2 linked regions of the Homo sapiens genome follow. The protein of the gene in region 2 purifies or fractionates together with the protein of the main gene of each other region. This does not show direct contact. Each region holds a gene or a part of one and is shown on either strand. Other genes may lie near its edges.

What was found. The genes of interacting proteins can lie anywhere in the genome.
Region 1: the proteins of ENTPD4 (region 2) and PCYOX1 purify together in Homo sapiens (affinity purification with mass spectrometry; 2 studies listed by BioGRID and IntAct, with this or other methods). This does not show direct contact.

Annotation. Positions count from the first base shown.
Region 1 is NC_000002.12:70,253,906-70,261,147, reverse strand, and holds the start of PCYOX1 (prenylcysteine oxidase 1 precursor), read right to left. Parts: upstream 3,012-7,242; 5' UTR 2,984-3,011; coding exon 2,872-2,983; intron 1,789-2,871; coding exon 1,582-1,788; intron 1-1,581. UniProt on the Homo sapiens protein: Prenylcysteine oxidase that cleaves the thioether bond of prenyl-L-cysteines, such as farnesylcysteine and geranylgeranylcysteine. Only active against free prenylcysteines and not prenylcysteine residues within prenylated proteins or peptides.
Region 2 is NC_000008.11:23,454,643-23,462,275, forward strand, and holds the start of ENTPD4 (ectonucleoside triphosphate diphosphohydrolase 4), read right to left. Parts: upstream 3,006-7,633; 5' UTR 2,915-3,005; intron 1-2,914.

The DNA of each region.
Region 1 (7,242 bases), on a different chromosome or scaffold from region 2:
CTGAGTGAATTTGGGGCTTCCCTCAGTTCTCAGGAGACACATAAAGGAGCTCTATCTTTGGAACAGTGTGAAACACTATACTTTCACTACACTGTCCAAAAGCAGATTTGCTAGGCGATGGGTCAGATGATCATGTAAATATTAATATATCAAAAGTAGATATATTTTTACCTGGCTATTTTTAGACTAAAAGTCTAAAAAAACTGGATAGTCAAAGGAAAAAAGCCAGAGTACCAACTGAATTCAATTTAAAAACAAAGATGTCAGACATGCATCTTCGTGGCATAATTTGTTCTGGGTATACCTTCGCCCTCGTGGAGGAAACGGAAGCAGAGGCAGCATCTACAGAGGATGTGGAAGGCAGCTGAGGCACTTCCATTCCTGTGAGAATCCTATTTTGCAAAACTGGATATTTCAGATAACTGGAAGGAGGCCAAAGTTACAAAATACTCCCTGCCGAAAGGGCCTCCAGAGGCCTGTCAGACTTTCCCCATGACCTATCCAGCTCCTCTGCTGTCAGGGCAGCAGTTGCACATCCCAAGTTCTAGGCACGTGTCTGCATCCACAGCTGTGTGACGGAGTTTGTTTTGTTGGTGGTGGTTTGTTTTGATAGGGTCTCACTTTGTTGCCCAGGCTGGAGTGCAGTGGCATGCAAGGCTCACTGCAGCTTCTATCTCCCAGGCTCAAGGGATCCTCCTGCCTCTGCCTCCCAAGAAGCTGGGACTACAGGTTTGTGCCATCACACCAGGCTAACTTTTTTATTTTTAGTAAAGACAGGATCTCACTATGTTGCCCAGACTGGTTTCTAACTCCTGGGCTCAAGTGATCCTCTGCCTCGGCCTCCCAAAGTGCTGGGATTACAGGCATGAGCCACTGACCCTGGCCATGGCCATATGTGAGTGACTTTGAGCCAGACAATTCAAGTCTCTGGGTCTCATTTACTCAGCTGCAAAATGATCACAATGAGATGACTATCTCCAAACCTTCTCTGATTCTTTAACACAAACCCAGAATTTTAAGAACAGACAACAGAGGCCGGGCACGGTGGCTCACCCCTGTAATCCCAGCACTTTGGAAGGCCAAGGCAGGCGGATCACCTGAGGTCAGGAGTTCAAGACCAGCTGGCCAACATGGTGAAACCCCGTCACTACTGAAAATACAAAAATTAGCTGGGCGTGGTGGCAGGCACCTGTAATCCCAGCTACTCAGGAGGCTAAGGCAGGAGAATCGCTTGAACCCGGGAGGCAGAGGTTGCAGTGAGCCAAGATCGCACCATTGCACTCCAGCCTGAGCGACAAGAGCGAAACTCCTCAAAAGAAAAAAAAAGACAATGGCAGCCATTCCCACCCCCACCCCATGGCTGTAATTCCAGATAACTGAAGATACAGACAACTAGTGTCCCATTACAGCAGAACTGCTCCTAACTCAGGCAGTACCAACTAACAAGAAAGTGAGGAAAACAGTTTTACCAACGTCTCTGTAAGGCAATTAACAAGGCAGAAATTTCAGTTCTCCATCTGATAAAAATATCCGGGGATGTCACACAGTAATCTGGTGAGCTCCAAGACCAAAATTACATACCCAGGTCTTTGACAAAACGTTTCATGTGCAGATTTAAAGGATGGATGACAGAACCTCCTGCCTCGTATTCTTGCCCCTGCACCATCATGGTAGCCAGGCGGCCCCCGACCTCTTCTCTTTCAAACAGGTCTATCTTCACATCTTTCCCAAATTTCTGCCGCAGGTAATAGGCTGCTGAAGTGCCACCAATTCCGGCTCCAATAATCGCTATGAGGGAAAAAAACAGAAGATTATATTTTCCCCTTTTACCAGCTCTGTGAGTTGTTTTGTTTTTGAAAGACCATCAATAGCAGAGGTTGTTACTCAAAGCTATTACCAACAATTTGGTGGGGGAAGAGTGACACCTGCAGCGAAGGTCTAACTCCCTGAATCTGGACAGACACTGTTCCCAGACAAAAGCAGTAGATTAATTAACATATTGACATTAACTCGATTTTTTTTCCAGATGCCCAAAGATTCTCACAGGTCTTTATGGAGGAACCAAGGGGCCTGCACACCCTTCCAGATGCCCAACTCACGGGCACATTAGAGGTGGACCTTTCCAGCACGCATTTTTAATAAAGTGACGGCCATTTATGCCTAGCTTTGTTGTGTCTAGATTCAATGTAGATAGGTTAATGATACCGAAGAACACAACTTTAAAGGGGGGCGGGAGGGAGACAGGAAGCAAAGAGCCAAGGCTCCTGACACTGGAGCTCTTGACAGTGGAAAGAGAACAGATTCTTTCTGCAGCTGTGTTAGTCCTAGGCGGAGAAACTGTGCAAGCCAAGGGCCTCTGAGAGCAGGCCGACCTCAGCAAAGCGGAGCTGGGGGAAGGCGGTTCAGCCTCCCAAGGGAAGCAGGCAGGGTCAACTTGTTTGCACTCCTCCCTGTGCTGTGCCTGCGTGAGCCTGTTAATCTGGCCGGGCGCCCCAGGTCAAGCCAGAACACTGGAGTCTTCACGGTCAGTGTTCAACGGGAAGATAGAGAAACCTAGGCCTCCCCGGAGCCCCACACCTAAGAGACAGGGGCTACAGGTACGCTAGGCGCCTGCCTGCCCGCCCGCCCCTGTCCCCGTCCACGCCCATTCCTCAAGTGGGCACCTCTCCACGCCTGGGAATGCACAGTCCTATTCCGACCAGAGCTGAAAGCCGCCCTGAAGTGTGAATGGGGGAAAGCGCGACCTGCGCAGCTGGCTCGGCCTGCACCGCTGGACTGCGTCGCGGCTGTGGGATCTGGGCGCACTGCGCAGCGGCCGCCCGGCGCGGGGCGCGCTCCAGCACCTTCCCGCGCCGCCCCCTTCTCGCCTACCGATTTTATCTGGCGGAGCACGCAGCTCGGCGCCCTCGGGGCATCCGCAGCTGCACAGCAACAGCCACAACCCCAGCAGCGAGGAGACGAGCTCCGCGACGACGCGCCCCATGGCCTCCACAAGCTCTGCAGCTGGCCTCAAGAGCCCCGCAGTCCTCCCACCGCTGCGCGGCTGCGCGCTCCGCCCAGCCCCGCCCCCAGGCCGCCCAGCCCCTGCGAGCCCCGCCCAGGTCCTGCGAGCCCCGCCCCGACCTCGCCCCGCCGGTCCTCTCAACCCTGCAGGAGCTCCCCACTCTGGGCCACTCAGTGCCCTAAGCACATCCTGCCGCCTCGAAGCCCACCCTCCTTCAGAAGACATCGAAGGCAGAAGCTGGCCGGGCGCGGTGGCTCAAGCCTGTAATCCCAGCACTTTGGGAGGCCGAGGTGGGTGGATCATGAGGTCAGGAGATCGAGACCATCCTGGCTAACACGGTGAAACCCCGTCTCTACTAAAAATACAAAAATTTAGCTCGGCATAGTGGCGGGCGCCTGTAGTCCCAGCTACTCGGGAGGCTGAGGCAGGAGAATGGCGTGAACCCGGGAGGCGGAGCTTGCAGTGAGCCGAGATTGCGCCACTGCACTCCAGCCTGGGAGACAGAGCCAGACTCCGTCTCAAAAAAAAAAAAAAAAAAAAAAAGGCAGAAGCTGAGGCTCGCCTCAGCTCTCCTCCTCCTTCCCTATCTATTTGGGTGAAGCACCTTAGTTCTTCACTAGTACCCTCTTCTGTTCCCTCCGTCGCTCCTCTCAAAGAATGCGCACAGCTAATCGCTGCCAGAAACAGACCAAAGGGACAACAGTACTTACTGAGTGATCACCCTGTTGCGAGAACTGTAAGGTTCTCCGTGAATGGGTAAATGGTGCTAACTGTAAAGAAAAATGAGGGAGACTGAGGATGGGGTGGCCCAAGGTGAAGGGGGTGTAATAGTAGTAACAGACATGAATAAAAGTAGTGTACCTGTAAGGACACCAGAATGTGCCACCCCAAAATACGCCTCTTTAGCCTAAGGATTATTTCAAGCCGAAGACAATTGAGAAGATGTAGATACGATGTAGATACGTGGGTGGAAAGTTCTCCGCCTTCCCCATTTGCCTAAAAGCAGGACATAAATTTTATTTTTTTAACAATTTTTAAATATATTGCATTTTATTACATAAAAGTAAAATTAGTAAAATAATATAATTTGATATACTTTATAATTTATAATTTCTCTCAGTATAATGTAGAAAAGTATTACTCTGAACACTTACTTTTTTTTTTTTTTTTTGAGACGGAGTCTCGCTCTGTTGCCCAGTCTGGAGTGCAGTGGTGCGATCTCAGCTCACTGCAAACTCTACGTCCCGGGTTCAAGCAATTCTTCTGCCTCAGCCTGTAGCTGGGACTACAGGCACCCGCCACCGTGCCTGGCTAATTTTGTGTATTTTTAGTAGAGACGAGGTTTCAGTGTGTCAGCCAGGATGGTCTCGATCTCCTGACCTCATGATCCACCCGCCTCGGCCTCACAAAGTGCTGGGATTACAGGTGTGAGCCACCGCGCCTGGCCATGAACACCTACCTTAAACATTACTTAATTTAGGCTAACTACAATGAGCCTCGCTACTTATATTTTTATCATGCATCTTACATTTTAATGTCCTTACTCTTTTATAGAAAAGGTCATAAAGAATGCCCAACTAATAAAGAATCTCTAATATCTCTGATACAGCAACAACTGATCACATACTTTCACATGTGAATACAATAGAAATAAAGTAACAGCATAAAGTAATTTGAAAGCTGTATTATATTATTATTCACTTTTCAAAAAATTGTTTTCAAGGAAACAAATATACTTTCAATGTAATTACAAAGCTTCAAAAAAACTCCTTTTAAAGTTATATACAAATAATTTAACAACTTTAATTGTGAATTCATTTTTATACTCAACACTCCTATTTAGTGTAATGTCTGAAGTAAAGCAGGACATAAATTTTAAAAGGCAAAGGTATCCCTCTTCCCACACTGCCTGGAAGGACAAAGGTTAATCACTAAAGACAATTTTACGCCTGTTAAATAAAATTCATAGGAAGCCATTGGTTTGGACTGAGCTCCTGCACTAGACTAGGCCCAACAGACTAAACCAAAATGGAGTCACTCAAGTCACTCATGTTCCACATCACAAGGTCAAAACTAAGTTGTCGATCTGACTTTCTAAGAAATCAGGAGAAAGAAAAATAATAGCCAAATTCCCGACAGACCAGTTTGAAGTGACATGATAAGGAAATACCCTCTGCTTTAAACTTTTCAAGGAAAGTAACCTCGAAACAACCAATGCACTTTTCTGTTTCTGCTTTCTTCAGCCCTTTCTGAAAGCCAACCTCCTCCACTCAACTCATAGGAACACTCATTCGATTTTATAAAATGAGGTGTTGCACAATTCTACAATCGCAACTAAAAGCCAATTATGCTCTTTAAACTAAATTAGTTGTAATTTTGTCTTTTGACAAACCTTTATCAGCCAGGAATCTACATGACAAACTTCATTAATGAGCCTTTTTCTATCGCGTATTTGCCTTCCCATAATTTGCCACCCCTAGAGACTCAAAATCATTTTCCTTCTCTTAACACTTCTCTTTTTTTTTCTTTCTTTCTTTTTTTTTTTTTTTTTGAGACGAAGTTTCGCTCTTGTTGCCCAGGCTGGAGTGCAATGGCGCAGTCTCACGGCAACGTCCGCCTCTCGGGTTCAAGCAATTCTCCTGCCTCAGCCTCCTGAGTAGCTGGGATTATAGGGAAGCGCCACCACACCCAGCTAATTTTGTATTTTTAGTAGAGATGGGGTTTCTCCGTGTTGGTTAGGCTGGTCTCGAACTCCCGACCTCAGGTGATCCGCCCACCTCGGCCTCCCAAAGTGCTGGAATTACAGGCGTGAGTCACTGTGCCCGGTTCTCTTAACACTTCTCTAAACATATACTGTTCTTTTTTGAAGATGCTGTATAATCCTGAATTCAAAGCTACCTCTTGGAGATTTGCTCATTTCCCTGGTCTCTCTTTTGAATACGTGACGTACATGTTTTTAAATTTCTGTTTTTCTTTTTTTCTTTCTTTCTTTTATTTATTTTGAGATGGCTTCGCTCTGTCACCCAGGCTGAAGTGCAATGGCACTATCACGGCTCACTGCAACCTCTCGCTCCTGGGCTCAAGCGATCCACCCACCTCAGCCACCAGAGTAGAGTACCTGGGACCACAGGCATCCACTACCATGCCCAGCTAATTTTTACATTTTTTGTAGAGATGGTTTTTTGCCATATTGCCCAGGCTGGTCTGGAACTCCTGGGCTCCCAAAGTGTTGGGATTACAGGCATGAGCCACCATGCCTGGTCCTGTTTGTTTTCTTCTTGTTAATCTGTCTTTTGTTACAGGGGTCTATCACAACCAAAACCTCGGAAGGGTAGAGGAAAACTCTTTTTTTCTCCCCAACATACCATACAATAGAACATTATGCATGCATTAAAAGGAAGCCAGGCACGGTGGCTCACGCCTGTAATCCCAGCACTCTGGGAGACCAAGGCAGGCAGAATATCTGAGGTCAGGAGTTCAAGACCAGCCTGGCCAACGTGGCAAAACTCTGCCTCTACTAAGAATACAAAAATTAGCTGGGCGTGGTGATGCATGCCTGTAATCCCACCTACTTGGGAGGTTGAGGCAGGAGAATCACTTGAACTTGGGAGGCCAAGGTTGCAGTGAGCTGAGATTGCACCACTGCACTCCAACCTGACAGGCTGATCTCAAAAAAAAAAAAAATTACAAAAAAAGAATGTTGGAGCTTGGCGCAGTGGCTCACACCTGTAATCCCAGCACTTTGGGAGGCTGAAGCAGGCAGATCACCTGAGGTCAGGAATTTGAGACCAGGCTGGTCAACATGGTGAAACCCTGTCTCTACTACTAAAAATATAAAAATCAGCCAGGCGTGGTAGCGCACACCTGTAATCCCAGCTACTCAGGAACGCTGAGACAGGACAATTGCTTGAACCCAGGAGGCAGAGGCTGCAGTGAGCCAAGATTACGCCACTGCACTCCAACCTGGGCGACAGAGTGAGACTCCGTCTCAAAAAAAAAAAAAATGGGTCTATAACTAATGTCCTAGTATTATCAGTTGAGAAAAGCTTGTGGTTGCATGATGGGTATAAAATGATCTCATGCCTCTTTTCCTTTCTCTGCCATCGTGGTGTGTTCTTGACTCCACCCTCACCATGTCTTCTCACAAGACTTTCAGGATTAAGTGATTCCTGCCCAAGAAACAAAAGCAAAATCGTCCCATTCCCCAGTGGATTCGGATGAAAACTGGAAATAAAATC
Region 2 (7,633 bases):
GAAGGTGACCGAGAGAATGATCACAGCGCACTTAGGAAACTTTGTGTCATCTGAGGTTTGTCTCAGGAATTTTTTTTTTTTGAGATATGTGATGATTTTGATCAAAAGGACAAACAGATATTTTAAGTTACAAAGCTTGTGTTTAAAAGCAGAGAAAATAGGACAGCTTATAACTGCTGAAGCACTGTAATTTTAACTCAGGACAAAAGTACAATGGATTATTGCCTAAGAGTTAAATGGTAATTTGATCTTCAAATGTAAACTCCAATTGTCCTTCTAGCTAAGAATCTTCGCACCAGGGCACTGGGAGGCAAATTCAGTAATACCACATAAAACTGACATGTTTTAAAAAAGCCTAAATTGTGTTAGACCTATCACCAGAGAGATGCATTAATTCTCATGATTTCAGCTAGTGGGGCCCTACTTGGCTGAACATTATTGGAATAAAGCCTACAGTCAGGTGTCAATGTCTTTGTCAGTCTCTCACTGACAGTTCTACAGATAACGACGAAAACAATGCAAATCAACCACAAAGGGAAATGGTTCCTCTGGTGGAAAAACACAAGATGCAAGGAAACAGATGTTAGTGAACTCAAATCACAGGCAAACAAAATCACAGAGAAGTCAGCCTCTGGGAGAGCTCAGCTTCTGAATAAGCAAAGGTACCACAGGGAAGGGTACTTCAGAAAAGAATGATTTGAATATCAAAGGATTCAAGAGAACCTGGAAAAATTAAAGATGCTCTCAACCATTCCGGCAGCGTTTTGCAAGAAACAACTGTCTTTCTGAGAGTGAGAGGCTGATGTGGAGGCTGCCGGGTGGCACCGTTACTCAGTAGTGACAAAAGATACATGAAGACAACTTGATTCATTCTTTAAGAAGATATGTATGTAGTTGCATTTATGATCTGTATGTTCAATATTTATCTTACACATTTTAATTTTATTTTTCAATATAAAATCTTAACCTCTTCCTCCCTCTATTAATTTGCAAAATTCTGGTTCCCATTTTAAGTAGTCTTTTTCTGGTCACTTTTCCTGAATTAACTCTGACTTTCCTCAAGTTCCAGTTCCACGTTCCAAGCTCATTGAAGCCCTGTTACTGCAAGCTCAACTAGTCCAACTCTAGGGTTGAAATCTTCTAATGCAAACTCTAATACCACCCTCCAAATTCTCCAGGTCTAAGACGGGTACCACCAATCCCCATTGACCTGGATTACCTGGTTCTCAGCTTTGATTCCCACATCCGGTGTTGACAATCTTCTATCATTCTCCAAGCCAGTCGATTCTTCCTCAGATATCCCTCATATCTAAGATGACCACAGCAGGCACCACTACCTCAAGACAGATCTCTTGGCGACTCACCCACCTTCTGCCTTCACTGTGCACGCCACACTTTACAAGCAACTCTTTGTAAAACACGGCCTTCAAAATATGATCAGCTAAGAACCTTCTGGAAGGCCATGGATCAACACCAAGTTTCCTGTGTGGCACCTGAAACCTTTTATCCATCAACTGGTCCACCTTATCTCACCAACCTATCCTCTCATCAGTCCCAGATACCATCTCTCAGCTCCAGTGCAGCAGGTCTCTCTCTTCTCTCCCACACAAGCTGTCTCCATGCCTGCCTCAGGCATTTACTAACAGCACTTCCTCCGAGCCACCACCGTGTCCTCCTCTCAAGACTACACTTCTTTCAAGGCACAAGTCAACATGTTTCTTTGTCAAGATTTAACCTGTTACACATCCTGATGTTTTCTTACAATTGGAATCGTCTCTTTATTCATGAGTAGTCTATTTTAAATAAACATGCTGAGTAAATACGTAGAGAATATAAATCCTTAGATAAATGTTCATTTTTGTCTCCTTCCTAGACTATATCCTCAAGGGCCTCAGTCACACATTTCCTATTAGAGGTAGAAGAATATAAGCCATAGATTCAACATGCAACAACTACAAGACCTCTGTTAAGGTAAACAGAGAAATAAACGATTCAACTACACGAATTAGTGTTCCATTTTATAATTCTACTATGTCAAACAGAATTAACAAACCTGATACAAAAACATCAAATATATGGTAACACAAATAATATAACTCTTTTAGGCCTCTCTAAAGCTGGATAATTTGGTATTTTCATCACAAAAAGGAGACAACAAAGACTGCAATGCGAAATTAGCCTGGGCTTTGAGTGTCTAATTTAGAATTCTTCCATTACCTCTAGTTTACCTTCTAGCCTGAAAGTTCCTGAATCATAAAGGATCTCTTTAGTTTCCTTCGTGATAAGTGTTCTCTGAAAACGCTCTGCACTAGGGTTCATCTAACTGGGGTCTGAAGCACCCTAAGGGTTCTGGGACACATTCTAGACCATGAGAGAATTGTTCCTTTAAAAGGGGTCCGCGCATTACTCAAGTTCAGAAACAATGCTGTGCATCATCACTTTACTGCCCAATAAGCTCCATTTTTCCAAGAAGAAATCTAACATGAAATCTGGCAAAAGCAAAGCAAAGCGAAAACGACAAGACGAGCGAATGTCATCATTTAAAGCGGCAGGCAGGGCCGGCTGGGTCCCGGGTGCAGCATCCCTGCTGCCCGGTCAAGCTCCGCCCATTCGAGGGGGGGATCCCGAGCGGTCACCCGAGGCGCGCGACCGCCAGGTGTCCCCTGCCAGGGGCTGGGGGAGCGCGCCGGCCGCCAGGGCTCACAGGGGTTGGTCCCGGGGCGCTCGGATGTGGCCGCGCGGCAGGGGAGGCGGGAACCGGTCCGCGGGGCTAAGCAGGCGGCTGTGGGGGCCTGGGGCAGAGAGGCTCGTCCGCGGCCCGCTCGCCGCGCCGCCGGCCCCCGCACTCCAACCCACTCGCCGGCCCCTTCGGCCGCCCGCCCTCCCCTCACCCACGCTCGGAAGGCAACCTCACCTGCTTGGCCGGCCGGGGACCCCGGGAGCGGGGGACCACCAGTGGGCAGCATCACGGCCAGCCGGCTTCCTGGAGGCCGCGCTCCTTTCCTGGAGCCGCACCCCCGCCCGGCCCCCGCCGGCAACACGTCACCGCCTGCGCCCGGAGCGCGCCCGCTGGCGGCGGGAGCGCGCACGCCGAGGGGCGCGTTGAGCGCTGGGGGGCGGAGCCTGATGCGGGATGATTGGCGTCCGAGCGCTGGGCTGTTCCGTGGACCCGCGCGGCCACGCCAGTGTGCTGTGCACGGGAAATGTGGACGTGGGAGCACGGAGGCACCCAGTACTGTGGCGTGGTGCTCGTCTGGTCGTCAGCGAGCCTCAGCGTACTTAGGACACCGCAGTTTATCTTTCCTTAGCGCTCCTAACGGTTATGGAAAATAGCGCTTGAAAACCTGGTAAGGACTAGGCATTGTTGCTCAACTCTTGACATTTACACCTTTGCCGGTAACTCTCCCTGTTTCACAGATGGGGAAACGGAGGCTCACACTTATTCAGTCTCTCTTGAGATCCACCTGATTCGTGAGAGGTAGAGCCAGGATTTCATTCTTGCCCGTCGATGGCATATGTTAGTGCCTATGTTGGGGGAGGCAGACTGCCCCAGCCCTCCCCAACACACGCAATGGTTATGAGAAGAAATAAAGCGAAGGGTGTTCCTGAGATTGACCCCATGACCTACACTTAGTACAAGGCTAAGCTCTCTTAGCTCTCTGGCTTAGCAATAAACTGCTTTGAAGACACAGAACTTTGCACTTGAGAGCCGGAAGAGACCTTGGGAATCCCGGGTTCCATCCTTTCTTCCACCTTGTATACAGGTGAATGCACTGTGGCCCAGAGATAGGAAGTGACCAGCAATCCAGCCACTTTAAAAGATTTTTAAAAACAAGAGCCCTAGAAACGTCTACTCCATTCCATTTATCAAGTAAAACAAGCATAGACAGAACTGGCAGTTCTACATCTTAACACAGAATCCTTCTTGGTCCAGCACCCGCCTGGGTCACCTCCTCTTCCTGGATTCAGCTACTGTTAACGGAAGAAACCATGAAGCCTCAGAAGGTTAGAGCCAAAGGGACTCTACTGTGTAGCCCCAATCACCTTCTTTTACAGTTAAGAGCCTGGAACCCAGAGAGGTTGAGTGACTTGGCCAAGACCCCCTGGAGGCAGAGGAGAGCAGAACCAATGTTTCAGACTCCCACATGACTTGCGCATCAGTGTCTTTTTTTTGACAATCTGTTGCTATAAGAAATTACTCGTTTGGATAATTTTCACACTAGAAAACCCTGTGACCCAAGGCTAGCATTGAGAAGCTAAAGCTGGCCACTGACATACTGTGATTTTAAGGACAGTCTCCTTCGAAATTATCTGCCTTTCAAAATCTTTGCCATTGGAGACACTGGTTGGGGTTATGTTAGTCTTCCTTAAGGAGGGCTCTACTAAAATGCCAGACTAGGCCGGGCATGGTGGCTCATGCCTGTAATCCCAGCACTTTGGGAGTCCAAGGCAGGTGGATTGCCTGAAATTAGGAGTTCAAGACCAGCCTGACCAACATGGTGAAACCCCATCTCTATTAAAAATACAAACACTAGCTGGACATAGTGGCTTTTTTGTGCCTGTAATCCCAGCTACTCAGGAGGCTGAGACAGGAGAATTGCTTGAACCCGGGAGGTGGAGGTTGCAGTGAGCCGAGATCACGCCAATGGACTCCAGCCTGAGCAACAGAGTGAGACTCCATCTCAGAGAGAGAGAGAAGAAAAGCCAGACTAGTAAGTATTATCACACCATCCATATTTCCTGATAATTTATATGTAATAATTGTCTGATAAGAGCTAGGAAAGAAAAATATAGGAAAGTATGGAAACGTGTAACTTGGCATATTACATTCTAGAGCTGCAGTGACAAATTGCCCTAAACTGGGTGGCTTAAAGCAAGATAATTTATTGTCTTCCAGTTCTAGATGGTAGAAGCCTGAAATGAAGGTGTCAGCAGGGCTGTGCTCTCTCTAAAGATCTAGAGGAGGATCCTTCTTTGCCTCTTCCTAGCTTCTGGTGGCTACTGGCCATCCTTGGCCTTCCTCAGCTTGTAGATGCATCACTTTGGTCTCTGCCCCTGTTGTCACATGGTATTATCTCTGTGTGTCTGTGTCTCTGTCTCCAAGTTTCTTTCTTCTCATAAAGACACCAGCCATATTAGATTCAAGGCTCACCCTCATCCAGTGTGATCTTATGATCTCATATTAACTTGATTATATTTGCAAAGATCCTATTTCCAAATAAGGTCACATTCATGGGTTCTGGGTGGACATGAATTTTTTGGGGGTGGTCACTATTCAACTTAGTACATGAGAGGACCATCCTGGTCTGGTTCATCAGGGAGAGCTTCTTTGAGGTAACGCTGTCTGAGGTCACACCTGCACAATGAATGGGAATTTATTAGAATTCTGGGCCTATATGAAGGAATAGTATTTCAGTCAGTGGAAACAGCAAAGAGGCTCTGAAGGGGCCCATTCTCACTTGTTAACAAGAGAAACAAAAACTGGAGCTAGGCTGGGCGCGATGGCTCAAGCCTGTAATATCAGCACTTTGGGAGGCCGAGGCGGGTGGATCACGAGGTCAGGAGATCGAGACCATCCTGGCTAACACGGTGAAACCCTGTCTCTACTAAAAAAAAATACAAAAAATTAGCTGGGCGTGGTGGCAGGCGCCTGTAGTCCCAGCTACTCAGGAGGCTGAGGCAGGAGAATGGCGTGAACCCGGGAGGCGGAGCTTGCAGTGAGCTGTGATCGCACCACTGCACTCCAGCCTGGGCGACAGAGCAAGACTCCATCTCAAAAAAAAAAAAACAAAAACTGGAGCTAACAGGAGGGAACACTTACTAAGTACTTTATGCCAGGCATGGTTGTAAGAACGTTAGAAAACACGGCATACAGAATGATAATGAAACTGCATCAAAATATGTGGAATGCAGTCAGAACAGTCCTTCAAGAGAAATTTATAGCTTTAAAAGTTTATTTTAGTAAAGAAAAAAGGTTTGAAATCAATTATCTAAGTTTCCACCTTATGACATTAGAATAAGAAAGTGAATTAAACTCGAAGTGAATAGGAGGAAAAAAATAATAAAAAATAATATGAGACATTAACCAACTTACAAGTTGGTTCTTTGAAAATATTAACAAAATTGCTAAACTCCTAGTGAGATTGAGCAGGACAAAAAAACACGAATAACAAATATCAAGCATAAAAGAGGAAGATCCCTACAGATATACAGAAATTGAAAATATAATAAGAAAACATTATGAATAACTTTATGCTGATCATTTCGATAATTTACATTAAATGGAAAAAGTCTTTGAAAAATACAACTTCCCAAAACTGGCACAGGAAGAAATAGAACATTTGAATCACCCCATATCTTTAAGGTCCTAAAAAGAAAATTCCAGAGCAAGATGGCTTCACTAGTAAATGTTTATCAATCATTTAAGAAAGGTAATATTGATTTTATATAAACTCTTTTGAAAGAACAAAGGAAGAGAGAACACTTTTTAATTTATAATTCAGAATAATCCTGATACCAAGAAATAAAAAGGAAAGAAAATCACACACCTATATTTCTTACATAGGTGCAAAAATTTTAACAAAATATTGGCCAATCAAGGTCAGGTGTAATGACTCATGTCTGTAATCCCAGCACTTTGGGAGGCCGAGGCAGGTGGCTCACCTGAGGTCAGGAGTTTGAGACCAGCCTGGCCAACATGGTGAAACCCCATCTCTACTAAAAATACAAAAATTAGCCAGGCAAGGTGGTGGGCACCTTTAATCCCAGCTACTCAGGAGGGTAAGACAGGAGAATTGCTTGAACCTGGGAGGTGGAGGTTGCAGTGAGCTGAGATTGCGCCACTGCACCCAGCCTGGGTGACAGAGTGAGACTCCATCTCAAAAAAACAAAAACAAAAACAAAATTGGCAAATCAAATCCAGCGACATCTGAAAGAGCAAGATAGCATTACCAGGTGGGATTCTTTTTTGAGGAATGCAAAATTGGCTCAACATTTGAAAATCAATCAATGTCATTCACTACATAAACAGAATAAAGAAGAAAATTCATATGATTCGTATGATCTCAGTCAATGCAAAAAAAAATTTGGCAAAATTCAACACCCATTCATAATTTTGAAAAAAAGCCTTTATCAACTATAAAGGGTATGATTTTCCTCAGCTTGATGGAGCATCTACAAAGAATACAGCTATCATGGTTGTAAAATCAAAGTAACTCATTTTGTGCATGGGACTTTAAAAGTGTTAAATGAAATATTGAACAAATATGTGATACCTGGAGATACATGACCATTTTGCAACCATGGGACAACAGTCATCCTGATAAGAGCCAACAATAAATACGATGGAACTGAAAGATAGAACTGTTTGGGTCCATGATGGCATCATTAAACCGCTGAACTAGTACCAGTGACTGTGTCTACCCCCTGACTTCTTATTAGGAGAGAAAAATAAGCTCTTTATTTGTTTAAATTTCTTTTGGTTGGATATTCCATTACTTGTTGTTAGGTCTTTAAAAATATTTGTTGACTGGTTGGGTGACTTGCTCAAGGTTATAAAACTAAATGGGAGACAGGATGACTTAATGTAAAAAGTACCAAGCCGGGAGGCAGGAAACCTGAATCCTTATCCTCA